7 separate regions of the Homo sapiens genome follow, and all the other regions are linked to region 2. Evidence: fine-mapped expression QTL. A gene starts in region 2. Each other region holds a variant in brackets. All regions are shown on one strand. Distances are from middle to middle. Region 1 overlaps ARHGAP26 (Rho GTPase activating protein 26). Region 2 holds the start of ARHGAP26 (Rho GTPase activating protein 26). Region 3 overlaps ARHGAP26 (Rho GTPase activating protein 26). Region 4 overlaps ARHGAP26 (Rho GTPase activating protein 26). Region 5 overlaps ARHGAP26 (Rho GTPase activating protein 26). Region 6 overlaps ARHGAP26 (Rho GTPase activating protein 26). Region 7 overlaps ARHGAP26 (Rho GTPase activating protein 26).

What was found.
Region 1: its variant is fine-mapped to the expression of ARHGAP26 in nasal epithelium (TOPMed, PIP 0.96).
Region 3: its variant is fine-mapped to the expression of ARHGAP26 in whole blood (TOPMed, PIP 0.99).
Region 4: its variant is fine-mapped to the expression of ARHGAP26 in whole blood (TOPMed, PIP above 0.99).
Region 5: its variant is fine-mapped to the expression of ARHGAP26 in whole blood (TOPMed, PIP above 0.99).
Region 6: its variant is fine-mapped to the expression of ARHGAP26 in whole blood (TOPMed, PIP above 0.99).
Region 7: its variant is fine-mapped to the expression of ARHGAP26 in whole blood (TOPMed, PIP above 0.99).

Annotation. Positions count from the first base shown.
Region 1 is chr5:142,846,252-142,850,319 of GRCh38, forward strand. The region is part of intron 1 of ARHGAP26 (Rho GTPase activating protein 26); the gene reads left to right. Among named protein-coding and RNA genes, the nearest start is that of ARHGAP26-AS1, 21 kb to the right of the region's middle. The variant A/G (reference allele first, on the strand shown) is at 2,210.
Region 2 is chr5:142,768,631-142,772,698 of GRCh38, forward strand. ARHGAP26 (Rho GTPase activating protein 26) reads left to right here and starts at 1,747. Exons shown (of 23, transcript NM_001135608.3): 1 at 1,747-2,285. The coding sequence starts at 2,132. RefSeq lists silencers at 1,551-1,960, 1,971-2,090 and an enhancer at 2,386-3,221.
Region 3 is chr5:142,834,856-142,838,923 of GRCh38, forward strand. The region is part of intron 1 of ARHGAP26 (Rho GTPase activating protein 26); the gene reads left to right. Among named protein-coding and RNA genes, the nearest start is that of ARHGAP26-AS1, 32 kb to the right of the region's middle. The variant C/A (reference allele first, on the strand shown) is at 2,151.
Region 4 is chr5:143,020,358-143,024,425 of GRCh38, forward strand. All of the region lies in intron 12 of ARHGAP26 (Rho GTPase activating protein 26), which reads left to right. Among named protein-coding and RNA genes, the nearest start is that of ARHGAP26-AS1, 150 kb to the left of the region's middle. RefSeq lists an enhancer at 1,549-1,638. The variant C/T (reference allele first, on the strand shown) is at 2,007.
Region 5 is chr5:143,207,693-143,211,760 of GRCh38, forward strand. All of the region lies in intron 21 of ARHGAP26 (Rho GTPase activating protein 26), which reads left to right. Among named protein-coding and RNA genes, the nearest start is that of ARHGAP26-IT1, 17 kb to the left of the region's middle. RefSeq lists an enhancer at 1-43. The variant T/C (reference allele first, on the strand shown) is at 2,544.
Region 6 is chr5:142,801,708-142,805,775 of GRCh38, forward strand. The region is part of intron 1 of ARHGAP26 (Rho GTPase activating protein 26); the gene reads left to right. Among named protein-coding and RNA genes, the nearest start is that of ARHGAP26, 33 kb to the left of the region's middle. The variant G/A (reference allele first, on the strand shown) is at 1,865.
Region 7 is chr5:143,039,836-143,043,903 of GRCh38, forward strand. It overlaps ARHGAP26 (Rho GTPase activating protein 26), which reads left to right. Exons shown (of 23, transcript NM_001135608.3): 14 at 1,981-2,055. Among named protein-coding and RNA genes, the nearest start is that of ARHGAP26-IT1, 150 kb to the right of the region's middle. The variant G/A (reference allele first, on the strand shown) is at 1,615.

The DNA.
Region 1 (4,068 bases), 78 kb after region 2:
CGGGCCTGAGACCTTTCCAAGGTCACATGGCTGGAGTTGTATCCAAGCTCAGAGGGGTGCCGAGGTATATGTGTCGGGTGAGGAGGAGTCACCAGTGCATAGGTGGGAGGGTGGGGCATGCCACCTTTCGTGCCTGTCTCTTGCTCCCAGGGGAATGTCTTTTGGTGTGGCCCAGGTGAGCCAGAATTTCAGGTCTTTTTGAGGATTAGTCTGTTTGACCTTCTTCTCCTCTCTGGCAAAGAGGATTTGGATGGGATTTCCCTTCAGTGGGGATTTTATCTTAGTAAGGGCTGCAGAACTGGGCCTGCTGCTTCTAGGATGTGCTATGTCATTCCTGCTCACTCCTCTGCTGTGACCACCCCTGCCACTTCCCCTTTATACCCCAGAATGAAGACTGCATCTCATAGACATTTGGGAGCAAAAGAGACTTACATTTTGTGCTGTCCTGTGAGAATCTATATATAGGATGTTGAGTAACCACTTGTAAGACACTTTGGTATCTTATTTGAGTAGTTTGGCAGATGTCCTTTAGTCTTGTTTTCTCTTTCTTCATTCATTAATTCAATATGTATTGATTAGTATGCTTAAAGCATACATGTATGTGAATAACTCTCCCTTAAAGGAGGATACCATGGGGGGACAGTGAGATCCAGAACCACTCGGTGTGCTAAGGACTTTTCACGTCTTATCTCAGAACAACCTTATGAGGTGGGTAGGAAACCTAAGAAGGGGTCTGTGAAAAAATGGGTAGCGGGGGGTGATTCATGAAGGGCCCCATGTGGGGCTGCCAGAGTGAGAATCTCAGCTCTGTTGCTTGCTCTCGGTGCACCTTGGGCAAATCACTGTGCCTCTCTCACCTTCTGTTTTCTCATCTGTGAAACGGGGATAACAGTGCCTGTCTCATGGGATTTTGAGAGTCAAATGAAACAATGTTTGTAAATTTCACAGCATTTCTCTGATACACAGTAAGATCTCAATAAAAGGTGGCTATTTTTAAAATTACTATTATTAGGTACTGTTATCTCCTTGTTTTCAATATACAGAACCTGAGCCTTGGGGAAGCTGCCTCAGCTTAGGTCACACAGCGAATACAGCAAAGGATGGAGATGTCTTTTTTTTTTTTGAGACGGAGTTTTGCTCTTGTTGCCCGGGCTGGAGTGCAATGGCGCGATCTCGGCTCACAGCAACCTCTGCCTCCCGGGTTCAAGCCATTCTCCTGCTTCAGCCTCCGGAGTAGCTGGGATTACAGGCATGCGCCACCATGCCTGGCTAATTTTGTATTTTTAGTAGAGACGGGGTTTCTCCATGTTGGTCAGGCTGGTCTCAAACTCCGGACCTCAGGTGATCCGCCCACCTCGGCCTCCCAAAGTGCTGGGATTATAGGCGTGAGCCACCGTGCCCGGCCAGGATGATGATGTCTTAACTGCCATTAGGTGGCACAAATAGAGTGCCACGAAGAGGCTCAAGGGAGAGAAGCAGCACCTGTGTTGTATGGGTGGTGGGCAGTGCTGCAGGTGGACTGGCGTGGGCCTGGGAGGACTCCATGGATGAGATGGCATTTGGAGGTTTGGCCCATCTGGACACCTGGAGGTGGGGAAGTGCAACATTGCTGGTGGAGTGAACATCAGGGAAGATACTCAGGGTTGAGAATTGGGTTGTGTGTGAGCTCAGGCATCCTGATTCAGAGCAGAGGTGGGGCTGTGTAAGCCCATGAGGGCAGGGGCTGGGCTGGGTTAGTTCTGTCCTAGAAGAGTGCCTACCACCTGGGAGGGGCTCCACACACAGTTGTTCAATCCAATTGAATGGCAGTGTCTGAAGGTGGCAAGCTTTAGTTGGTGAAGGGGAGTGATCTGGGAGAAAGGAATTTTGAACTTCAGTTGGAGAAGTTGATTTCTGCCCACAGTGAGACGTGGAATTCTTTCATTTGTATTGCAAAAGGCTAGCTCTCTCAGCCGCCTGGTATTAAACTGTAAGTTGCTCTAGACACTAGTTTTGGTTTTATCTGGACAGTGAATCTGATACTCTCTGAGCTGTTTGGTCAACATTGCTTATGGTAATAGGAGATTACAGGACTGGGTGGCCATCACTCCCCGGGGTCTTTTAAATTTAAGACCACAGAACCTTGAACCAAACAAAAGCTTGTTTGAAGTGAATAGCGTGTGTGGCCCTGTGGTTTTCCCAGTCCCATTTTCCTCCTTTACTCCCTTCC[A/G]GTTCTTCCTTGTTTTCTGTGGTCAGATTCTCACCATAGGTGGTTCTCCAGCCTTGGCACATCAGCTGAGTGCAGGCGCTCCTCACTTTGTCTAACATATGTGTTAGAGTAAGGCTGTGTGAACATCATAGTTGTGTAGGTGGCGTGGAAGCTGCCGAGGTGAGCACAGTGTGAAAGAATTTTGCTTATAATGAGTCCTTAGTGAGGCAAAGGATGGCATTAGTTTTGAACATCTGTACCCTAATTCTGTATATGATTCTTTGCATGGTTTTTATATGTTAGGTTTTCCTGTAGCAGTCTACAAAATTGGAAGTTCCTTAAGACAGGGGCCTGCTCCCTCACTATGTAACCTAGCCATGGCTTGTGGGAATTAACCAGTGGGCATCCGATTTATGGGCCAGGCAGCTCTTTCTTTCCCGCCTACTTGGTTTCTTGGCCCTACTAAGTAATGACTGTCAGAGGACAAACATGGGTGTGTTAGAGATCTCAGGAGCAATTGGTTATCTTTGCACTAAATTGGTTTTAAACTAGAGGTAATGATCTGAAATTTACTGGAAGTCTCTTCCATGTTGTTTATTGGTTCCATGGTGATACCATGCCCAACTCTAACTTGATTTTTTATCAAATGTGTTTATTACCCTCTTCTCTGAGCCACAAACAACACTTTAGAAGGGCATAAAGGGATGGGAGTCAAGGTCAGCAGTTTTGACAAATGATTTGAAAGATTGAAACCATCTCAGGATAATTTTCACTAGCTAAAGCAATTCCAGTAGGTTTTCATTGTGAAGTAGGTGTGGACTCTTGTGTTCTCACTCTTGGGTAAGACAGGTTCTCACACCAAAAAGACCCAAGACTTCAGAGCAGGGGAGGCACACCTCTTATCTCTCCCCTCCCAGAGCATTTCCATTTGTATTTGGCTTTTCTTTTAAAAAGACAAATGGTGCTTGAGAAGGTGTGCATACTTTCAAACAGCCGCCGTGAGATTTTGCTAACATTCCTTCTCTGTGTTGAAATTCTCTCCTCCTCCATTGACAGTGTGCTCTCCATGCTTCATTCATCCCCTTCTGAACGTCCCTTCCTTGCTCACCTTCTTTGTCCTGTGGATCTTCTCAAGGTTCCCTTCCTTGTGGGCTTCTCCTCCCCAACCAGAAGGTCTGCCTCTCTTTGTCACTAATCTCTCCAGTCCCTAGCTTCTGCCACCACCCACATGAACATGACTCCTAGACTTCCCTCTGGCAGCCCCAGCCCCTCTCCAGTTCTTTAGTTTCTTGATGTCTGCTGGCATCTCTAATCTGTATGCATTGCTGGTGCCTCAATCCTGCCGTGTTTCTGTCCTCTTTCCTCCAGTCTGCTTCACCTCCCATGCTCCCTGTTTCTGTTAAAAATGCTGTTGCTGTCCCCGTCATCCAGGCACAACCTCTGGACCCACATGTGATGATTTGTTTCACCCAGTTAGTCCCCAAACCCCACGGGTGTTCTTCTGCACACACTCTTCTCACCACGCCAACCACTGCTGGTTCAGACCCTGGCTACCTCTAAACTAGGCCCCAGCCAGAGCCACCTCACTTGGATCTTTCCTTCCCTTCCTCTGTGGAGACAGAGACTCTGCTCTGCTGCCTCCTGCAGCCTCATGCCCTCATTGTGTTCCCTAGGCCTCTTCAGAGCTCTGCCTACCTCTCCTGCTCTGCCTATGGCTTGTCCCCTTCTTTTGGCCCTACTATTTCCCGTGTGTGCAGCCCAGTGTCCTGCCTCTGTGCTTTTGTTTAAATTGTCCCCTCTTCCCATAGGGGTTATTCTCCCCATCTCTCCTTGGTCAATTCCTTTGTGACCAGTTTAACTCCTCCTTCCTTAGAGGAACA
Region 2 (4,068 bases):
GTATCATTTATTCTGTATTAATAGATAACCAGAACACCTACCTTTAGGTGCTCAAGATAAAGCATTAAACAGATTTACTTTCATAGGGTTTCCATTCTAGATCTTTCTCATCTTTGGCAAGTGAAGAACAATTGTTTTTGGGTTGTAATTATCTATCAGATAGCTGTCTGGACCTGCTATCAAGTCTAAATTTGTAGATACACCTATCAAAGAGATCACATTCACTTATTTATACATTTACTTATTTATTTTACAATTTTTTGTAGAGATGGGGGGGGTCTCGCTGTGTTGCCCAAGATGGTCTTGAACTCTTGACCCCAAGCAATCCTCTCACCTGGCCTCCAAAAGTTATGGATTACAGGTGTGAGCCACCATGCTCCATTTATGAATTTAATACATTAATTGCTTTCTTAATATAGATGGGACACCTCTGACCCCTCCTGAGTGAAAAATCCATGTTCCCAAGCACCCAGGCCTTCTATCCTATCACAAGGCATGGTTATCGCTTGTTTGCTTCCATCTCACCTAATACCACCAGCAGCTAAATTCATTCTGTTATTCATCTTTGTATTCTTACCATCTAGGCTAGTGCCTGCACATAGCAGACCTATTTAAAAAACAAACCAACCCAAACAAACATGAAGCCCCCACGTAGCTGAAGGAGGGCTGCTGGTTCCTAGACATAGAGATAATTTATTCAAGGACAGTCCCTATCCTCCAGGAGTTAACAATTCAGCACTAGACACCCTGTGGGACCCAGCCTGACAAGTGCAACGAGTGAGATGCCAGAATTGAGTCCTGCGGTCGAACAGAGGGACTACAGGGCAACGCACTGGGCGTGGGAGGTGGAGATGGCTCTGGGAAAGGATCCATTCATTTATTCTACATTTATCAATCACCGTAGCACACACAGCACATAGTAAGTGCTCAATATCTGTTATTAAATGCCAGCCACTGTGCTAGGTGCCAGGATGCAACAGCGGACAAGAAAATTGCAGGGGCACTTGCCCTCGTGGGGCTTACCGTGTAGCGAAGGATGACAGGCAGTAGACTGTCATCTTATTATGTAAAATTGTGCTAGATGCAGAGCAGGAAAATAACAGGCGGCTGAAATTCTAGTAATGATGTGAGCTCCTTCGGCTGAGGGGAACCGTGGGCGGGTTCTGAGCAGGAGTGGCCGTGAGGGGGACGGACCGTAGGGGGCGGGAAGACTGCAGGCAAGAGCTGGTAATTTTAAGATGCAAATAACATTTTTCTGCCTGACTGGAAGAGGAGCGTTTGGTCGCTCGGGATTCTCCCGGAGCAGGGGGCTGTATTTTGAGTGTAAAATCGGTTGCCCCGCAGTGCAGGGCAGGCGGTGGTGAACTGCAGCCCTAGTCCCCAGGTTTTTCATGCTTGGCACATCGAGGCTCTTCGGCCCCCAGGACCAGCAGACTCGCCATGCGTGGCTCGGATTCGGGCTGGAGCAGGCGGGCAAGGTAGCGGGGGCGGGTGCACAGCAACGCTCACCCCTAGGTTTCGGGGTCTGCAACGCTGGGAGGGCAAGAGGAGGCGGAGTTTGCGCTGCGGACCTAGGCGTTGGCGAGGGCCACGCCCCCAGCCGCAGACCCTGCCTCCAGGCCCCTTTGATTGGATCAAGACCGCGGAAGGGCCGGGCGTCCTCGGGCGGCCTGAGGGTCGGGCAGGGGAGGGTGCGCTGATTGGCCCGGCGGGGATTAAGTCATCGCTAGCAGGTTCGAGCGGCCCAGACACCGGCGGGGCGGCCGAGGCTGCTGTGAGAGGGCGCTCGAGGCTGCCGAGAGCTAGCTAGCGAAGGAGGCGGGGAGGCGGCGTCTGCACTCGCTCGCCCGCTCGCTCGCTTCCCGGCGCCGCTGCGGGTCCGCGCTGCGTTTCCTGCTCGCGATCCGCTCCGTTGCCCGCGCCCGGAACAGCAGCACCTCGGCCGGGTCCGAGCTCGGTTCGGGAGTCTTGCGCGCCGGCGGACACCGCGCGCGGAGTGAGCCAGCGCCACACCTGTGGAGCCGGCGGCCGTCGGGGGAGCCGGCCGGGGTCCCGCCGCGTGAGTGCTCTGGGCGGCGGGCGGCCCGGGCCCCGGCGGAGGCGCGCCCCCCGGCTGGGCGCCGCGCGCACCATGGGGCTCCCAGCGCTCGAGTTCAGCGACTGCTGCCTCGATAGTCCGCACTTCCGAGAGACGCTCAAGTCGCACGAAGCAGAGCTGGACAAGACCAACAAATTCATCAAGGAGCTCATCAAGGACGGGAAGTCACTCATAAGCGCGCTCAAGAGTGAGTGTCCCGAGCCCCTCGGGGACGCGGCTCCGGGGCGGGAGGAACTGGGAGGTGGCGCTTAGCCCGGGTTGCCCGCGCGTCTGCCGGGTTTCTGCTCCCGGTACACTGGGGGACGGGTGTCGACGCCTCCGAGGCAGGAAGGATACGTAAAGCGGGCGAACCAGCAACCATCAGATGAAGAGAGAGACCCGTCGCTCCGCCTTTTGCGTTCAGGGATGGTCGGGAGGTGACCCAGCGCGGGTGGTGCTCTGGGGCAGCGCGGGTGGGCGTGGGCGTGCGCGGCACGCAGGTGTCCCAGCAGTGGGGCCAGAGTGCCGAGCGCGCCGCAGCCAGCGGGCAGATCCCATCGTGTCCACAGCTCCAGCTCCCTTAGGGGCAGAGTTGCTCAGCCTTGAGTGCCCAACCGTGAGAATGGAGCGTGCCCTGCCGAGGGGGCGCTGCCTCCCCTTGGGAAAAGGTGGGTTGTGACTGCTTCGCTCCCTGTACGCAGCTCCAGCCTAGTCAGGCCGCCGGGTTCCCTGGGTGGAATGCTTGGTTAGCTTGCGATTCCTTGGAGTATTGGCAGCCAGTAATCTCTAAATCTGGAATCAGTACGTGCGCAGGTTCTGATTCTTGTGTTTAGCAGAAGGTGATAGGGGTGGGAGTAGAGAATCAGAGTGTTCCTTTACTCTAAACTGTGGGCGAGGGTTTAAAAATAGAATGTACATATCCCAACTCTCTCCCTCTCCTGCTCCCAAGCTCTCCTTTTTACCTCTTCCGTTATCCTTGTAAAGGTCTGAGAAGGAATATCCATAATTCTCAGAAAGAAGTTCAAACGTATTTCAAAGATTCTTGGACCTTTTGTAAAACCATTTTTGCGTTTTTTCCTTTTGGTACAAGGGGAGAGATGCAATTTTGCATTCTGCTTCACTTTTGCAGAGCCAGAGAGTTTCTTTTTCTGGCCAAATAAGCGTGCTCTAGGGATGAGTGCTTTGGATTGTGAGAACGTTTTTGGTGCCTTTTCAGTCTCCCCATTTAAAAATAGCTCAGTCCATCTTTTAGTTTTAAGAATCAGGAACCACATGAAGGCAGATAGTGGAATTGTCTCTGACTCTGTTACTGTATCTGTTTCTGTGATGGATTTCTTAGTAGGTGATACCTTTCAGCTAAGAAATCTTGCCTTAGCAGAGTAGAGTCGTAGCTGTGGGAATTGTTCCCAGGCCTCTTTAAAGGGCACTTACAAAAGTCAGGTGCCTGAGATGTCATTTTGTCAGCTTGTTGCTTCTAAAAATGAAGAGAGAGACAATGGAATGCCAGGGCAGCCCAAAGTGCCAATCTTTTGGGATGAAATGAACACAGGACTGTGATGTGATGAGGCTTCTTAGAGGCAGATTCTTAGGCTGTGCCTTACCTGAAACATATGAACAGACCCTTCCTTTGTCAATAATCAAGGCCATTCTTGGTTTAGGGGATGGGGGTCCCTGGTTTGGAGTAAGTTAGGGGCCCACTTACAGGTTGGGCCCAGGAATTTTGATTGAACCTCAGGCTGGCTTTAGTGAGTTCTCTGCTTCACTCAGCAAACTTTTGGTGTGATTGTGGTGTACTGGGTACTGCACTGGGCACTAAGGGTGTAGGAGTGAATATTTTGCTGCTCCTGTGCTTACAGAGGTGTACTTCATTCCAGGCACTGCTTCACATATAATTATCTCATGTGCTTAGATTCATTCTGCAAATGAGAAAACAGAGACTGGGGGAAGCATTACCTCTGAGTCACACAGCTCTAGCAGCAGGACCAGAGCTT
Region 3 (4,068 bases), 66 kb after region 2:
CGTTGCAAAGGAACATGCATTAAAGGTGCGTGGCCATTAGCAATCTACCATATCACCCAAAGAGTGCTATGATCCTGTGTAGACCAAGTTTATTGTTAATACAGAGCTCTATAATACTGAGACTCTGTTCCACCTGGTTCACGTGTGAACACTGTCAGTTGACAGAGCCAGGATGCCTGGGGCTAGTAGGGGATGTATTGTCTCCATCTGATAGAAGAGGATTAGATCAGAAATAGGAGAGCTTTTAAGGATTGCTTTTCTTTGGTAAATCAAGTTTGATCTGTACTAAATCATTTTCTTTTTCTTGATGTTTCTTTCATTGTTTGAAATAGCCTCTGTTTATCTCATGAAGTGATTTGAAGTTAATGCTTTAACAACATGAAAACATTTCTGGACTTGGAATGGCTGTTCTTCAAAGCACATTTGTACCTTAACCCATCAGAGATAGAATTTATGGTATAGAGATGTCTTCTTTTTCTTCTGGTTCTAGATACCCCGTGTAAGAGAGTATTCAGGTGGCCCCATTCATTTAACTCCTGGGTCTTGCAATCTTTATCAAAGTGAAATAGTCAAGGTAATATCAAGTCTATTTGATACAAGAAGAGTCTCTGATTCATCAAAAACATCCAACTGACATATTACCCAGATAGATGCTTATAGGGTGGTTAAGTCTCACAATTTCTTTGACTTGTCTTTTACCCAGGTGTCTTTTCAAAATGGAGGGAAATGGTGTTTTGGATTTGATTTGGTGATTTCGTGATTTGGTAATGATAATAGCAAGGAGTGGATCCTTTTTATTGAGCATTTTCTATGTTCATGGAGTTCCCTGAGCTTAGTACTTTTCACACATTGTCTCACAGGGTTTGTGGGGAATGAAATTAGGTAACCCATGGTTAGCACATGATACATAATAAAAACCCAATAGTGGTTAGCCACCAACACCAAGAGATGGATAATAATAATTTTCATTTAATTTAGCTCTTACAGTGATCTCAATTAGATTCTATTTGTGTTATTAACTTGTACAATCAAATCATCACAAAACCCTCTAAGATTAGTTTTAGTATTACACCCATTTTATATATTAGGAAATTCAGGTACGCAGAGTTGAAGCAATTCACAGAGTTAGTAAATGGCAGAGCCAGGATTTAAACCCAGGCCAGGGCATCTGAATCCAGGGCATTGGTACCCTTTCTTGGTTCTTGGGAATGGAATCTTCACGTACATTGACTTGGTGTCTGGATTCTTGGAGAGCAAAAGTAAGATATCATCAACCCACTTCCCTCCTCTAATGTTTAATTCTGGGTCCAGGCATCCTGGGCAGGGGCTCTGAACTGGTGATGCCAAGTTGCTGCTTCACTCAGTTAATGATCTCTCTGGGGTTTTGGCTTTTCACTTAATCTGTGGTTCATTCTTCCCCTCTGAAGAGAGGAGCTGGCTTCCTTAAAGCCTGACAGCTTTTTTCCCCGGTGATGAACCAGTCATATAAATCATTTACAACTTACTCTTTAAAGAGATGTTCCTTTTTCCCAATGCCAGAATTCAAGATACTCTGTAAGGCAGGAGCTCAAAGCCCTTTACCTGGGCTAATTAGACCACCTATGCTAATTAGACCACCTCTTCTCATTTCTCTGTTTGAGGCTTCAAGTAAGAAGAAGTCTCCCATGCACTCAGTCTGAAGTAATTTCCATAGTTTTCCTTGGCATCACTGAGTATTTTGAGACATCTCGAGGCCTGTGTTTTCACAGAAGTTGTCTCCGGGTTACTTAGAAGAGTAAGGATTGGAATAGAATTGCAGGGTACCCCAGTTTTAGTCTCCCCATGGAGTAGTTCAAAGGAGTTTGAAATTGCAAATATAAATAAGACTTTATGGTTCATGTTGTTATTGCCACCCTTCCCAATTTAGAAAACCTTTGGATCAGATACCATACTAGGCATTTTACAGGTATTATTTCATGTATTCTTTAAAACAGTTTTATGAGATTGGTATTATCGTACCTACTTTCCAGACATGGAAACTGAAGGACAATTATGTAACTTGCCTCAGGTCAGGTAGGGAGGAAGTAGCCCAGGTGGTACTGAGATCAGAGCTCAGGTTTTTCATATTTCAAATCCTGTTTTTTCCTGGGTGACTTACCCCATTGATGTGT[C/A]CTTCAGGCACCCTTTAAATCTCTCGCAGAACGCATTTGGAAACCAAAACGGTTTTTGTCTAAAATTCATTATCTGGAACTTCTGTAGTCAGTACTCTTTCTTCACCTTATCCTCTTTCCATTTTTTCCTCTGAGTTCTTGGGATGAAGTAATGAAGTTTGGAGGCAAGAAGGCCTGGGATTAGGTTCCTTTTAAGTTACTTGGCAAGAGAAAACAAAAGGGTAGACGTCATGAGAAAGTTTCCCATTGTATCTCTAAGCTCAGTGGAGGATACTCTATTGGAAAGTTCTGTTCTTCCCATGAGAGGAATTAAGGAAGGGAAGAAAGATCTTGGCAAAATTCTGTTTTTTTTTTTCACCCTCTCCCTCTGACCAGCCTTAGTGCTTTGTGTTCACTTCTGCTTTCCTCTTCTACCACCCACCCTGGGTTCCTCGTAGTGAACACGTCATTCGAACTTGGTATCTTGTTACTCTCACGTCTCACTTGAGCTTCACTTGGCGATGATAAGAAGGCCTGGTTTTTAGGCTTGCAGTGGCCAGTTGTGCCTGCTTCTCCTGCCTTGTGCCCTGTACTTGCCCTTTGGTACTTTGTGCAGCTGCGGAGCTTAAGGGTGAGCTAGTCCTATCTTTTCCCTGCAGTAGAAGATACTTTTGAATGTGAAATCAGTATTGAGTATTTCGTAAGATCCCTGATTCTTCTTGTTCCTTTTTGGGCATCATGGTTTATGAGATTCTGGATCGTCAGCCTTGGTAGAATAGTTATATATTTATACTCCAGCTCATTCTCTTTTCTTAGGACTAACTCAAACAATACAAAACAGTTTTGCCCCTCACATTGCTTCAGATGAAAGCAGAAGAAAAGAATAGTTATTTATGTACATAATTTCACAGTAATCAGATCTTTCATTTTTCCCTGCAGGGATATTGGCAGATAGCAATCTGAGTGTTTGCAGGTATGACATGTTGAGGGTAGGCTGGGCGCAGTGGCTCATGCCTGTAGTTCTGGCACTTTGAGAAGCCGAGGCAGGTGGATCACCTGAGGTCAGGGGTTCGAGACCAACATGGCCAACATGGTGAAACCCCGTCTACTAAAAATACGAAAATTAGCTGGGCATAGTGGGTGGGCACCTATAATCCCAGCTACTCAGGAGGCTGAGGCAGGAGAATTGCTTGAACCCAGGAGGCAAAGGTTGCAGTGAGCTGAGATCCCACCACTGCACTCCAGCCTGGGCAAGAGAGTGAGACTCCATCTAAAAGAAAAAAAAAAAAAGTTAAGGGTAAAATATTGATTGATTCTGTAGTAATGTTTGTATGGTACCTTAACAAGGAAATAGGTTTTGCATTTTTCTTCCTCCTTATAGCCAAGCTTTCATTGTTCTTACCTTTTGATTGAACAGAGAAATACAAAGGAAGTTAATTTTATAATGAGATGGCCAAAGGCATAATGATATACTAATGCAGGTATGAGGTCAGGTAAACCTGGGATAGAATCTAGGTTTAGCCACGCTTATTGGCTGTGTCACCTCAGACAGGTTGTTGAACTTCTCTGAGTTTTGCTTTTATCATCTTGGACAATAATGCCTACATTTCAAGATGGTTGTGACCATTAAAAATAATTAAATGAATTCGTAAGCATCTTGGAGTGTCCTGTATATAGTGGGGCTTATATATTATTGTTCTTATTTTGTTTGCTACAAATGCACAGAACAAGCTGGTTTGAGGCACTTGTGTCTAGTAGTCATGTTGTGGGATCAACTTTGGAAAAAGAGACAGCTTTGGAATTATCTAGTCTGAAATTTTCATTATACAGACAAGGAAACAGACTCAGAAAAGTTAAGTGACCACGTCAAAGCTGTAGAACTGGATAGGGACAAAGCTGAGACTAGAACTCGTACCACTGACTCTTAGCTTATGGTCTT
Region 4 (4,068 bases), 250 kb after region 2:
GCTGTGGAGGTTCAGACCACAGGGGAACAATAGACAGATGGCCCAATTACATCGTGTGGGTGTATGTCATATTCAAACCATCTACAGAAGTACCCAGGGTGCAGACTACATGCCCAGAGCTCATGGATTTGAGAGTGAGCTACACTTGAAAAATGGAAATTTCCTCCCTTCTCTCCTCCCCAGAAGAAGAAAAAATATAACACTTCCTCCTCTTTGCATCCAAGTCCTAGTCCTTTCTTTCCTTGTGGTTTGTTTTTAATCTAGTGCTCTAGTGCTTTTTTTTTTTTTTTTTTTTTTTTGAGATGGAGTCTTGCTCTGTTGCCCAGGCTGGAGTGCAGTGGCATGATCTCCGCTCACTGCAAGCTCCCCCTCCCGGGTTCACGCCATTCTCCTGCCTCAGCCTCCCAAGTAGCTGGGACTACAGGCACCCGCCCTCACGCCCGGCTAATTTTTTTGTAGTTTTTAGTAGAGACAGGGTTTCACCGTGTTAGCCAGGATGGTCTCGATCTGCTGACCTCATGATCCGCCCATCTCGGCCTCCCAAAGTGCTGGGATTACAGGCGTGAGCCACTGCACCTGGCCTAATCTAGTGCTTTTATAAGAATCCTTTATATTTGAATAAAAATGCTGAAGAACCCACTGCAGTTTGCCAATTTGTCATTCACACTGGGAGGTGGGGAGAAGAGCAGTGATTGAAGAAGGAAATATGAACTCATTGTAGAATATTACAGAAATACAGCAAAATGATTTTGAAACATTCAGTCAAAAATCATTGGTAATATTATTCCCAGAGATACTTCCTTCTTGCCTTTTTTAAATGATGTCTTGTATGTATTTTGTCAATGTCAGTATGAATTTTAATTTAACTGGCATTATGTTGAATATGCTTGTTGTATTCTGCTTTAAAAATTACAGACATTTTCTGATGTCATGAAATGTTTAGAAGTATCACCTGTCATGGTTGTTTAATATTCTGTCATTGGACTATATCTTAATTTGTTGAATCATTTATCATTGTTAGACTAATGCTCTTTCCAGGTTTTTGGTATTACAAATAACATTGGCCTATGTTATTCATAATAGCTTCAAAAGTTATTAATTTCATCAGTTATTGGCCTTGTACATCAGCCTTTGTACGTATCTCAGATCATTCTCTTTGGGTAGATTCCGCCACGTGGATTAGAGAGAGGGTTTGCATGGAGGAGTAATGTGTGGCTGGTGTAGAATAGCATCCTGGGTGTAGAACTTTGGACAGGTGGTGCGCCTCTCTAAGCTTCCATTTCCTCTTCTGTAAAATGGGGATAATAATACCCCTGCTTCATAAACTCATTGTAAGAATGAAAGTTCAGCACATTAGTATCTGCACATTAGTTGGTAAGTGCCTAATTACTCTTGGTTATTACTCTTATCATCTGGCCAGGCCAGTTACTCCCACAACAAAAGGAAAAACCCACTGGAAAGGAAAAGCCAGCTGGATTGGTAACACTGCTCTTGAAGGGAGGAAGACAACCTGCTACTGTTTCTCAGTCTTGGTGCTTTATGAGTGTTCATTCATTTAATCCTCGTTACTGTATTTCTCAAAGTGGGGTGTGCACACCACTGGTGGTACACTAGGTCATTTGAGAGAGTATATTTTAAATTACCATCTAGACTTCTGTATTTATTTTGATGTGTATTGTGGGGGAACATAAGTTCTCTGAAATCCCCTGATTTTATTTTGTTTTATTTCATTTATTTTTTTGAGACCCCTGTCACCCAGGCTGGAGTGCAGTGGTGTGATCACGGCTCACTGCAACCTCCGCCTCCTGGGCTCAGGTGATTCTCCTGCCTCAACCTCCCTAGTAGCTGGGATTACAGGTGCCTGCTACCACACCTGGCTAATTTTTTTTATTTTTAGTAGAGATGGGGTTTCACCATGTTGGCCAGGCTGGTCTCGGACTCCTGACCTCAGGTGATCCGCCTGCCTCGGCCTCCCAAAGTGTTGGGATTACAGGCATGAGCCACTG[C/T]GCCTGGCCAATCCCCTGATTTTACAAATGTTATTGCTTAGCACAGGGGTCCACTTTTTTTAGTAAAGGGCCAGATAGTAAATATTTTTATTTTTATAGGAGTATTCAACTCCGCTATGGTAGTGTGAAAGCAGTCACAGACAATATGGAAATGAGCAGGTGTGGGTGTTTTCCAGTAAAACTTTGTTTTACAAAACAGGCAATGGTGAATTTGGCCCAGGGACTGTAGTTTATTAACCCTTGGCTTAACACAAGGCTAAGTTTTTAAAATTAGTCTAAATGGGATGGCATGAGGTTTTGAGAGGGAGCATGAAAGTGTCACACGATGGGCTGCCATTTGTACAAATGCTGTTCACAGCAACTGAGTTTCCAAAGGAGCTCACAGGCTTAAAGAGGTCAAGGGAGCACAGTTGAGAAGTAGTGAAGCTCATACTCAAACCCTAGCCTGCCTCATTGCCAGGGTCATTTTTTTCCTGCAACACTTCATATGCTTGAAATCTTTGATCCATTCTGCCATCCTGTTCATATGTGGTCCACCCATGGGGGCTGGAAGGAATTTCATCATCAGACTCCAACATCTAACCCCTCTAGTTCTTTGTGGCTGAGGGGCCATCCCATATTCCTTCTTAGTGCACCACCTCATTAGAGCCCTCAGTGGTTCCTCAAACACCTGTGCACAGTGCTGGGTGCACAAGGGTCACGCATTTCACTGACTGGCTTCCCCAGGGTCAGACCCTTAGTGTGGCCCACCACTCTCCCACAGGGATTTGGCAACACAACATAATGCTTTATATGTTGTTTCTGTACATCCACTCATCCTTCTTTAGGCCGTCATTCAGAGCAAACTCCCTGATGGCGTTTTATTCAGGTTTGCCTTGTTTTATGAGGACAAGATTGAGGACCAGGAGAGGAGATGGGGAGGGACATCATTACCATTGCTCTGTTTCCTATTGTTGTGCCTCTGACTGTACATTTCCTTCATCTCTGTTCCTCAGCCTCCCTTGATCTGTAAAACAGAAAAGGAGATTTAGGCTTGAAAACTGTAGGGAAAGCCTTGATGGGATCGCCTGGGCCACTATTTTTAAAAGACATCTAAAGCCTTCAGCCATTACCAAAAATCCACCGTCTCATGAAAGCAGCAGAGGGCAGAAAAGAGGATTTGTTTTTCTTTTGCTTCTAGTCACCTTTGGCCTTTTGCTGTTAGAACACCCACAGTTGAGAGGCAGGAGGAGGCAGCCACCGGTAACCAGGATCCTTTTGGGATCAGAACCATCCAGAGGCTGCCAGGCCTCTGCTGGTCGGTGGCTTATAAATAGAACATTTCCCCTTTTAAACCTGAGAAGGGTGGAAGGCATTAATGGGCACAGTGGCCTGGCCGCCTATGCACTGGCCCACGAGGCAGTCAGCTGAGTGCAGCATCCCCTCCAGCTTTCTCTCCAGGCCTGCCAGGTCTGAGCTGATAGAGGACAGACACTCTGCCTCCCTCCCTTGCCTGCGTTCCTTCCTGCCCTCCTCCCCACACCCTTTTTCTTTCCCCTTTCTCCTCTCTCCTGTGCATGCAGTTTCCGTGGCCACCACTTTCATCTTCTGAGCCGCAGTCAGGCGAGGTGGTATAATTCTAGCTCTCCCTAGGTGCTGACTTTCTACACCTCACTTTTCATTATGAGTTGCCTGTGCAACACAGTTGCTGTGGTGCATTGAGCTTGAATTACATTTAGTTGAGCTGTAATACCCCAGCTCTAGAATAGCCCTGGCTCGGAGGGCAGGGGGCTGGAGAGAGAAGAAGGGGCAGGAACAGCTTGTTTTTGCAGATATTTTATTATTTGAGTTCCCAGCTATTTTGTTTGATGAGACCCTGGCCCCCAAAGCTATGACTGGTGGTGGTACTCCTTGGACTTGCATGGATAATCAGAAGCCTTTCTGCTTGTCCTAAAAGACACTTGACAAATCTACCCTCTCTCTCAGCTAGCTTTAGACTGGCAGATGCAGCCAGTGTATGCCTCTGCCATGGCCTAATATTCCCCTTTCCCTCAGTGATGTGGGCTCTGTACTGACAGCAGGC
Region 5 (4,068 bases), 440 kb after region 2:
CCTGAACCAGACTCTGGTTTTGATGGCTCTCTCAATTTCATGTGCTCTCTGCACTTTGGTGTAAGATAACATAAGAGGAAACAGTGTTGGGACATGTGCCAACCTTTTCTTTTCTCATGTTTATCAGGCAGCGTCAGGCAATATTTATTTGTGGGGTTGGGCCCCTGGCCCTAAGCACTGACACCCAGTCACTTAGACCAGATCCACTGGGGGAGAGACGTCGAACATAGAATAAAAGCTTGAGAGACGAAGCGATTTCTCTTAAATTGCTCACGGCTTATGCCTCGTTGTCCCCCATATACTCCCGAAACCATCCATGCTCCCAGCCTGCTTCTGTCTCTGTGTGTCATGAAGCCTGAGCTGTCCTGGGAACAGGCACTACCTCTCTCTGAGGGAGAGCAGCTTGACCTAGTTCCTCTTCTCAGGGCCATGCTGTAGTTTTCCCTGCTTTTGTGACTTCCGCACTTAAGTTTTTTGCTCTTGTGCTCTTTGGGAAAAAAAAAGAGCTCTTTACAACCGGGAAAAGAACGAATAGGGATCCTGCAGAATTCCTATGCTGTGGAGCTCCTAAACGTGCTTCTCTCTCAAGCTTAGTCTCAGCTTTCAGACAACCAAATTGTAGAGCCCAGTTATAAGCATCAGAAGCGTTTTGGGCTTTGGGAGTATTTTCCCTTCTGTCTTTTTCTCCAAAGGGTGGATCCAGCAGAGAGGCTTAAATAATTTATGAAGCCGAGTTTCACTTTTAGAAGAAAAGAAAACCCCATGCTATTTATATATATACAGATACATATATTACTTTATTCCCCACTAGGCACTTACACATCTATCATTTCATTCTATCCTCGTGTGAGAATGAGAAGAGAAATGGCCTGAACCCTACTGTGGAAAAAGAAAACTAAAACACAGGGAGGTGACTTGGACACAATGCTATGACTAAATGAGAGCCAATCCAGAATTCAGGACTTCTCCCCCTCAGCTCAGCACTCTTTCCTCCAAACACGTGGGTAACCCCAACTTTGAGTTTCCGTGCAGCTCCCAGCCCAGAGCCTGACTTGCTCTTTTAGGTTTTATACAGCTTTCTACCTGGCTTTGTCCTGGATGATGGGAAGGAGATTTTCAGTAATTCTTTTTTTTCTCACTCTATAAATAAGGGAAATTTTCAGATCATGTCTTCCTGACATTCTAGTGATTTCCTAATCATTTCTTGGACATCTTCTGGGCACTTTGGGAGACATCAACTTTCTAAGATACCAGAAATAGCATAGATTATTCTCATTAGATCATGAGGACCTGAACCAGAGGAAACTAAGTGACCACAGACAAGTCAGCTTCCAAAATGCCTCACTTACTCATTAGAGAAACTTGGGCTTTAGGAAAATGTAATTCCTTCATTTTTATCAAAATGGAGTAAAAATCTTCAAAATATTGGCCCTTTGGACAAAATGGGTTAAGAGACTCAAGAGAGTGAAATCACTCAGCTAAAATCCTAAAATGTCCTCTCTGCCTTGATGGTACTCACTTTTTTGTGACTCTGAGATTTGGGGCCCTGTTTCTTGTCAAGTATCTCTACCTCTTCACTCGTTTTCATCTCCCCAAATATTTCCAGACTGTTTTTCCTTCCTACTTCTTCCTACCTCCCAAAGTATTTCCAGATTGACAGAGGGCAATGGCAATAGAATCTGCCATTCTGTTGCCATCTTGTGTGTCTGGGGTCACAGTTACTCAGTACCTCCTCCCCTGGCCATTGTTAGAATAGCACTATTTGGACACCCTTTAGGAAGCTGCCCTCTTGAAATAGTCAAGGCAGGCCGGGCACAGTGGTTCACAGCTGTAATCCCAGCACTTTGGGAGGCCAAGGTGGGGAGATCACCCGAGGTGAGGAGTTCAAGACCAGCCTGGACAACGTGACAAAACCCCATCTCTACTAAAAATACAAAAATTAGCCAGGCATGGTGGTGGGCGCCTGTAATCCCAGCTACTCAGGAGGCTAAGGCAGGAGGATTGCTTGAACCTGGGAGGCAAAGTTTGCAGTGAGCCAAGATCGTGCCATTGCATTCCAGTCTGGGTGACAGAGCTAGACTCCATCTCAAAAAAAAAAAAAATAGTCAAGGCAGAGTTGGACTAAATGTGTGTGCCCAGATGAGCACAGACAGCAACACTGCTGAGGAGCTAGCCCATCAGAGGAACAGAGAGGGCCGAAACCTGTACACTGTAGTGTATAGCAAAGAGGTGGTGGTATACACCCATTATTCAGGTCCACTGGGGCCTCCCTCAAATCCACTTCCAGAGCATGAAGCTTCAGATTTCCTTCCCTGAGCAAAGCCTTTATAAGTAAATATTGAATTAGATCTAATCAGTGGTCCCATGAACTTCTGAATGATGTCTCCTCTGGAAATTGCTTACTGTCTGAATTAGTCTGTTTTCATGCTGCTGATAAAAACATACCCGAGACTGGGAAGAAAAAGACGTTTAACGGACTTGCAGTTCCACGTGGCTGGGGAGGCCTCACAATCCTGGCAGAAGGCAAGGAGGAGGAAGTCACG[T/C]CTTTCATGGATGGCGGCAGGCAAAAAGAGAGTTTGTGCAGGGAAACTCCCGTTTTTTAAAATCATCAGATCTCGTGAGACCCATTCAGTATTATGAGAACAGTACAGGAAAGACCGTCCCCAGTGATTCAATCATCTCCCACCGAGTCTCTCCCACAACACGGGAATGATGGGAGCTACAAGATGAGATTCAGGTGGGGACACAGAGCCAAACCATATCACTGTCCCCTCTTCAAACCATTTATAGACCTTGTTTGTTCAAAGTCAGGAATGAAGATGCCTTTTGCAGCACAGTAGAGAAAGGGTGCTGGAGACACATTCCCTCCGTATTTCCCTTTTCTTTCACTTGCTCACCCCTCCCCCAAAAAAGCCGATAGCCCCAAACCCGTAACTTGCATTTGCCCAGGGGTCCCTGGAAATTATGCCTAAATGATCAACCCCTTTCCACCTGCCAGTCTAGCTGGTCCCACCTCCCTGTAGTGCCATATGATGGCGAATGGGTCATCATTTTGCAAGGTTTGCAAGGGCATTTGAGGGAAACTCCTGTGAGTGCTTTCCAGGCCTTGTGCCATGCTCAGAGGTGAAAATTAAAAGGGAACTAGCAGGAGGATCCCAACTTGTTCATGCCCTTAAAGGCCCAGCTGAGGTCTGAAGGGCACTGTTGACAGGAGCAGCCGAAAACTACCCCAGGCCCTCTGTATCCAGTTTTGAGATATACTGTGGAGAATAGGAAGCCAAAGAACCAATGATGCCTGGTGGAGATTTTTTATTTTATTTTTTTATCAGAGCCAAAGCCTACAAATACAATCTCTCTGCCAACAGGATTTGTCTGTTTTGGTAGGAACCCTACCTAAAGCAAACTGCTTAAGACCTTTCAGAAGGAGTTATGGGACACTTGACTTGTTGGGCTGACAAGCTTTTAAGAAGATAAGACTTTTTGGGTAGGGTTGCCAGATTTAGCAAATAAAATAAAAATACAGCAGACCCAGTTAAATTTGGATGGTAGATAAACAACAAAAATTTTTTCATATATGTATGTCCCATGCAATATTTGGGACATAACGTATACTAAAGAAATATTTATTGTTTATTCTGCCATCCAAATCTAACTAGGTGTCCTGTATTTTATCTGGCAACCCTACCCATTCCTATTCCTTGGGCAACAGGAATGGCCCCCTTTAAAAGCACCTCTTCTGTCATTTCTCCCATTTTTGTGCCTATCCTAAAGCAGTAGAGGGAGATCTCAAGGGAAAAGCCCTCCCATAGACTGTCAGTTGCCTATCAACTTGAGAAAAAAACAAGGCCCTTTCTTGGCTTGCTTATTTATTTATTTACCTACTTACTTTTTTTTTTTTTTTGAGCCAGGGTCTCACTTGACTAGAGTGCAGTGGTGCAATCTCAGCTCACTGCGGCTCCCACCTCCTGGGCTCAAGCAATCCTCCTGCCTCAGCCTCCCAAGTAACCTGGACTCCACACGTGTCCCATCATGCCTGGCTAATTTTTTTTATTTTTTTGTAGAGATGGA
Region 6 (4,068 bases), 33 kb after region 2:
TTGGCTGCTCTTGTGTTCAAAGAATGTCACTGTACCCAACTGTTTTCCTTGCAAGGAATAGGGACGAAAGTACCTTGTCTTAAACTTTTGTGGTTAGAGAAGCCCACAGCCCTTAGGGAAACATTGCATTTTTAAAAAATGACTTTAAATCCGTGCTGTTGATACTTATGTCTAATGCCAGTCATTGGTCTGGGATCTGTGTGCAGAGTTGCCTTCTGTCTGGTGAGACTGGAGTGGGTGCGGGTCAGATTCCGTAACCTCGTGGAGAGAGGATAAAAACTAGATTGAAAGAAGAACATCAGAGGGGATCTGTTCCCTCTTAAATCCCTGGAAGCTCCAGAGGCCGTGAGAGTTGAGATGAGAGAAACTATTCTGTGGTACCTTTTATATGAATGAGGTATTTGTTTACAACAATATCCAGATAATTTTCTTTTTACAGTAATGGCTACAATTTTGCCCCATCCTGTTATCATTGGTGATGAAGGCTATAAACAGATGTGTGGAAGTTGATGTTTTTCAGATTTCGTTTTCATTTTATTCTGAGCATTCTTTAACAGAGCTGTACCCAGTTAGCAGGATTTACCTTGTTTAAAGTTTGGTCTCCTTTTATTTTTCTGGTCCTTAATTTTAGTGGAGAGGTCCATGCGAAGTCAATTTGCTGAGATCTGCCAGTAGATGGAGGAAAGAAAAAGTACAGTAAGTCCTCACTTAACATTGTCGGTAGGTTCTTGGAAACTGTGGCTTTAAGTAAAATGGATTCTTGAATAATGTCATTTTGTTCAACGTAGTTTTTATTGTAATGTTGAGGACAAAAAAATTGGTTTTGTTATGTGTTGTTTTACTTAAAGTTGCAGTTTCCAAGAACCTATCGACGATGTTAAGCGGGGATTCCATGTAATTGTAATCGTCAGTTGAAGTGGCTCTGGAGTGTTTTTGGGATTGAAGTTTTATTGATGAAAAAGTAGGCATTGGCAAATTTTTTTTTTTAACAGCTGTATTGAAATACAATGCACATACTAGGGCACTGGAAATTTAGAATTAGCTCAGGGACACTAGAGTAGACAGTAGACCAAGTCTGGGACTCTGATGAGAGGCCCATTGACATTATTTGTTTGTTTAAATTAGGAGGCCCAAACCTGAGTTAGATTTCATCCTCTCCAAACCTCAGTTTCCTCACCTGTAAAGTAGAGAAAATAATACTTGGGCCTACCCCATAGGGCTCATTCAAGGATTCAGTAAGCCTCTAGTCCATATTAAGTGTTTTGGGGCCATGCAGGGCCAACTGAAGTTCCAGTGTGTAGTGGCGGGGAGATACCCCTTAATCCAGCCTCATGCGCAGACTGTCATAAAGTATGGGAACCTTATCTTTCTGGTCTGCATAGTTTCTTCTGGTGAAAGAATGGTTAATTGAACTGAAAGTACATTGTGTCTTGTGTTTGGGAAATAAAATAGTGATCTGAGATGCCAATTAAATCTAGTGTTGCCAGATAAAATATGGGACACCCAGTAAAATTTGAACTTCAGATAAATAATGAAAAATTTTCAGAATAAATATGTCCCAATATAATTGTAGTTTACCTTAAATTTAACTAGTTGTTCTGCATTTTTATTGGTGAAGTCTGGCACCTCTAATTTTGTCTCATTGTTTCCCCATTTGGAATCTTTTGGCTGCCTTTATGATAGCTGAAAATGAGTTGAGGAATTTCAAATAGGATGCAGAGGTATGATTTTATTTGCATCTGCCCCATAGCTCCTGTCCTTTGTTGTTGCTAATAGAAACCTGGCCTTTCACGAAAGGTCCCGTCATCTATTAAAACACTGGTTGCATAGCAGCCAAACATTTTTGTTGAGAAATAAGCCGGAC[G/A]GAAATCTCTGTGATGACACTTCCTTCAACCTCACGCTATTGCCGAACATGCGACAAGGAGGATGTTGGGAATGGAATCATAAGAATCCTCCTGCAGCACGTCAGCAGTTCACCCTGGAGCAGTTAGAGGTCAGCAGGCAGGGACTCTGGTGGCATCTGGGGATGTGTTCTTGGGCTTTAATAGCAGGTAGGAAGCCTTATCTGTGGAGGAGTCCAGCAGTGAACATCCCATTCTGCATGCCAAGGGAACGCACAAATAGGCAACATACAAAAACAAAAGAAGTCAAAGGCCTGGTCCTTGATCACTGAGGAGTGTATAGTTCCAGAGAGGGATAGGACCAGCAGGTATTTACACAACACTTCCTTTGTGACTTTGTATCAGCACTGGTAGGTGCTTTCCACGCACTGTCATAGTAATCCTTAACAGCAGCCCTGTGAACAAGATCCTGTTATTATTCCCATTTTCCACATGAGGAGACTGAAGCTTAGGCTGTGGGATGGAGCCTGCAGCCGTAAAGTCAGCCTGACCTAAAAGTTCCTGTTCTGTCTCTACTCCTTATCAAATATTGCAAGTATAGGTTGAATCATATGAAATTGCCAGTATGTAACAATTTTGACCTACAAAAAACGACAGTTTTATATGGTTCAACTTCATCCAAAGAACGAGACCCAATATTATATACACACACATATATATATTACAAATAACTTGCTATTCCGTAACTATTACACATAACTTGCCGAGGCTGACTAGGGTGAATGAAATATGTGGACCTAGTTTTGGTCTAACCAGGGATGCTTCTGGGAAGCTAGTTTTCATTCATTCACTCACCCACTCACTCATTGGCTCACTCACTGAATGGAAACTTACTGAATTCTTCCAAGCATATTATTAAGCATAGGTTTGAACAGATTTTATTTTTTATTTTTATTTTTTTGAGACCGAGTCTCACTGTGTTGCCCAGGCTGGAGTGCAATGGTGTGATCTCGGCCCACTGCAACCTCTGCCTCCTGGGTTCAAGCAATTCTCGTGCCTCAGCCTCCCGAGTAGCTGGGAATACAGGCATGTGCCACCACACCCAGCTAATTTTTGTATTTTTAGTAGAGACGGGGTTTCACCATGTTGCCTAGGCTGGTCTCAAACTCCTGACCTCAGGTGATCCACCTGCCTTGGCTTCCCGAAGTTCTGGGATTACAGGCATGAGCCACCATGCCCGGGCTGAACAGATTTTTTTTTTTAAACTTTTTATTCAGAAAAATTTCCTTCCTGCTCATTTGTAGTGAATTCTGCTCTCACCATCATGCAACCACTAATCTGTGTTTTGTATGTGGGCCATTTCTGGCCATCTTGTATGAATGGAATCATTCAACGTATGATTGTTTGTGTCTTGCTTCTTTCACTTAGCATAATGTTTTTCGGGTCCATTCATGTTGAAGCATGTGTCACGAGCTTATTCCTTTTTATTGCTGAATAGTAGTCCATCATGTGGCTATACCACATTTTCTTTTTCTTTTTCTTTTTTTCCTTTCTTTTCTTTTTTTTTTTTTTGAGATGGAGTTTCACCCTTTTCGCCAGGCTGGAGTGCAGTGGCGCAATCTCGGCTCACTGCAACCTCCGCCTCTCGGGTTCAAGCAGTTCTCCTGCTTCAGCCTCCCAAGTAGCTGGGATTACAAGCATGTGCCACCACACCTGGCTAATTTTGTATTTTTGGTAGATGTGCGGTTTTGCCATGTTGGTCAGGCTGTTCTCGAAGTCCTGACCGCAGGTGAACCACCCGTCTTTGCCTCCCAAAGTGCTGGGATTACAGGTGTGACCCACCACGCCTGGCCCACATTTAGTTTTTCTATTCTCCAGTTCATAGACATTTGGATCATTTTTACTTTTTGGCTATTATGTATGTTGCTACTATGAAATTTTTGTACAAGTTTTTGTGTGGATGTATCATTTCTCTTGGGTAGGTAACTAGGAGTGGAATTGCTAGGTCATGTGGTAAGTTTGTATTTTACTTTTAGCAGGTTTTTGAGGAGGGAGAGCGAAAAATGAGTTTATATGAAGGCCCAAAAGTGTGACTGAGGTTTGGAATAGCTAATGAGGCAGCTGTAACCTGGAATGAAGTACCAGAACCCAGAAAGATGAGCTGGACAGATTTTAGTAGGAAGGTTAAAGGTGCTCTGGAGTTAGCCAGTGATCCTGCTGCCTCTCC
Region 7 (4,068 bases), 270 kb after region 2:
TGTACAAGTTCCTCTTCCCCCTCTAAAATGAAAATGGAAATGATGTATTTTAACTTCTACGAAAGTCTTCATTGAGCACAAAGAAGAAATAAGGACAGTATGAGTTAGGTGCCATTTTAGCGTAAATAGTTGAAAAAAGTGGGTATCTCCCGATTGCAGTGTGTGTATGTGCATACGTATTTATGGTGATCAGAGATGAACAGACTTCCCATACTCTCTGGGATTTGACAATTGTCCAGTGGGAGGTGGGATTGTGTAAAGTCCCGGGAAAGCACAAGGATAGAAGAAGTAGAGACACTTAAGACTTTTCAAGCCCACAAGCTGACATGTTACTGAATCAAGTTTCTGCCACTGAGTAACTTGGGACCCATCACTTAGTTTTTGAAGTTTTTGACCAGGGACTCCTAGTCCGTGAATCATGCAGAATGATGTACATGATTTTACAGGTCCTTTTTAGCTGTAAAATTCTATCATTCCAGACCACTTCTTTTTATTCATTAGTTCCATGTCTACATAGGTCTTGTTGAAAGTACTGCAGAATTGGTCCTTTCCTGAGTTTCTTTTGGAAGATTGTGTTTTGGCCCCCAAGTATTTTATACTGGCCTTGATGGAGTATAATCTCGTGTTTTGTTTATTATCATGTACCATATACTGATCCAGGGACTGAGGATGTAATGGTGAACAGGACACAATTACTGTTTACATTCTATTGAGAATGTAACAGAAAAAACAAGTAAATAATCAAATAACAAACATAATTTCAGATATTGTTAACTGCTATAAAGAAAGAAAACAGGGTAAGGGAATGACCAGTAATGTTGATTGTGGATTGCATTAGATTGAAGCGGTTGCATTTAAGCTGAGATCTGAATGATGAAAAGCTCTGGGAGAAGAGCAGTCCAGGTAGAGGAAACAGCTGGAGCAAAGGCTATGAGGTGGGGCCATGAGCTTGGCATGTTGAGGTGACAGGAAGGCCAGTGTGTGGAGCAGAATGCATGTGGTCAATGATGCAATCAGAGGTAGTCAGTGCTCGATAGTATAGGCCTTATAGGCCATTGTAAGTAGTTTTGATTATGGTCTAAGTGCAATGGGAAGCTATTGGAGGGTTTTAAGAGAAGAGGTGATATGAACTAATTTGCACTTTAGACAGTTCACTTTGGCTACTGGTTGAAGAATGGACATCAGAGGAATAAAATAGGAAGCTGGAGCTCTATTACTTGAGAGGGGTCAGATATGATGGGCCTGGAACTAATAGGAGAAAAATCATTTCAAGTCACCTGGTCTAAATTGCCTTCTTTTGTAAATGGTACAGTGGTGATCTAATCCATGTATTTAAATGAACAGAAACACTGCAGTGGATTAGTTTTTGATTTTTTGTTTAGATGTTTAATTTAAAAGTAAACCCTTACTAGTCTAATTGTACAGTTCCTTGGGTTGAAATAAAGGTGGTCTTTTTTGATAAAGAATATTTGTATTATAAATGAATGGATCTTCTAATTTCTCAGTCTTGGCTAACATTCCTTAAAATTAAAAACATTCTTACACCTCCGTATTTTCATTTTTTGTGTAAAAATAGATTATAAAGTGTCTTTTTCTGTTGTATGAATTTTTAAT[G/A]TCATTTTTGGCATTTTAATTTTAAAAATTGGTTAAATATGACATATTTAAAAGTGTACATTTTGCATCTTTTAGAACTCTTCAGATGCTGCCTTTGGCAAGAGAAAGGAAAGCTTCTTTCGCCGCTGATGACTGAACTAACATGAGGGCTGAAGTGTGCAGCACATCCGTGAAATCCTAGACAGCTGTACCAAATCCCACTCGTTTGCTAAGAGCTGAGCTGAGTGACAGGGGACTTTAATTAGAGCAGCTTTTAGGAGGACTGAGAAAATGAAAAAAAAAAAAAAAAAAAGTGCATTTGGCTGGATTGGCCTGACTTGTGTTCTGACGTGCCTCTAATTAAATCATCACTGTTTCTTTCCTCAGGGATCAACGAGCAAGGGCTGTATCGAATTGTGGGTGTCAACTCCAGAGTGCAGAAGTTGCTGAGTGTCCTGATGGGTGAGTGCCGCAGTGGCTCTGCTAGGCAGGTCCCTGGATGGGGGGCCCACTCTGAAAAGTCACCAGGTCTGTGAGTAGATACAGCCTGTGGCAAAGGAATCGGGGTGTCCGTGAGCTGTCACCTAGAAGTCATCTGCCCCATCGGTCAGTTGTCATGGCTTCAGACACTGCTGGGAAAGGTTCTGAGTAGGACTGGACAAAATAAAAAATGCCAGGGCCCAGACACCACACCCTCTCTGTCTGTAGGCTCAGTGCTCTGGTCCAAGTGGCACTCAGTCACTCATGTGACCACCACACCCTACTCTGTCTTTAATAGCTTATGACTCCCTCCGTTCTCTTTTGGGACAGGTATTTAGTGGGACACACCCAATGCCCAAGGAAAGGCATCATTCTGGGCTCCAGAGGACCTCAGAGTTCATGTTCCTGATACTGAGCAGGTGTCATGTAACTCTCAGATAAAATATATATAACCAGAGAAATCTTCTGATCCTCTTTGCTTCTAGATTTCAACCGAATACCTGTCACTTGAGCAGCAGAACCTCCTTTGCCACTGGCTGATATAAATACAAAGCAGTGTCTCCAAATGTGCAGTATTTGAATCAAAAGCCCATGAGTCCATGAGCCAAATTTGCTTAGGCTGCAGATTTCCTGTATTTTTAGATATGAGTGCAGCCAGCCTCCATGAATCACATGGACCTAAATGGCAAACAGATCAGGTTTCACAGAGGCTGTTATTCCTCCCCATGGAAGCCCTGGCTTGTAGAGAGGGACTATCACTTGGGGTACGCAGCTCAGTGTTTTGGACAGGGACAGTTCTTGTGTTAGTATTTGTAATTTCTTTTGCCATCCCACTTTCTGAAAATAGCTTTCTTGTGTAAAGAAATCTCTTCTCTCATGTTGGCCAGAATGACTGTCTTCACCTCTTTTTGAGAGAGTCATTCACTTCTTGTAGCCAAAACCCTATTGTATTGCTAGTTAGAGTGAGATCTGTTGTTTAAAACTATGATTATTTGCGAGGTACTCTAGCAACGAGTATCTGGGTTTTTTTTGGTTAAGATTTGAAATATGGTTAGTTTTTGTAAAAATTAAACTTTTCATTTTGAGATAATTGTAGATTTACATTCGGTTGTAAGAAATAATATAGAGATCCTGTGTACCACTTACTCAGTCTCCTCTAAAGGTAACATCTTGCAAAACACAATTTTAATATCACAACCAAAATATTGGCATTAATTTAGTCAAGATGCAGAACACTTCCATCACTAAAAGGATTCCTTGTGATGTTGTACAAGCACATACCTCACTTCCCACCTTGCACCCTGTGCCTAACCCCTGGCGATCAGCAATCTGTTCTCTATTTCTATAATTTTGTCATTTCAAGATTATTATTTAAATGGAATTATACAATACAGAACCTTTTGGGATTGGCATTGTTTTTCAATCAGTGTAATTTTCTCAAGATTTATTTTTGCTGTTCCATGTATTAATAGTTCTTTTTTATTGCTGAGTAATATTCCATTGTATGGATGTACTGCACTTTGTCGAACCATTCATTTATTGAAGGGCACCTGAGTTGTTTCCAGTTTGGGGCAATTATGATAAAGCTTCTATAAATTTTCATATATAGTTTCTGTGTGAGCATATATTTGTTCCTCTGGGATAAATGTCCGAGTGTGCAAATTGCTGGGTTGTATGGCGATAGGGTCAATTTTTGAGAATTTCTAATATAAGGAAGAATTAAGAGTCTAATAGGTGTCAATCCTTAGTTTTTCATTTCTGACCAGAGCTGCAAACATTTGTGGGGTGTCTGCTGCTTAGAACAGATGTCAGGTGCTAGAGATTAAATTTTAGAAAGAGCTGTTCCTTTTCTGTAAGGAGTCCTGATAGGGTGAAATATGTGTGTATATGAAAGCTGTAATGTAAAGTATGATATTCATGCTTAATCTGTGCTGGGTCTAGAAGATTGAGTAGTGTAGTGAAGGAGAGAGTAGAAGAATAATTCCAATTCATGAA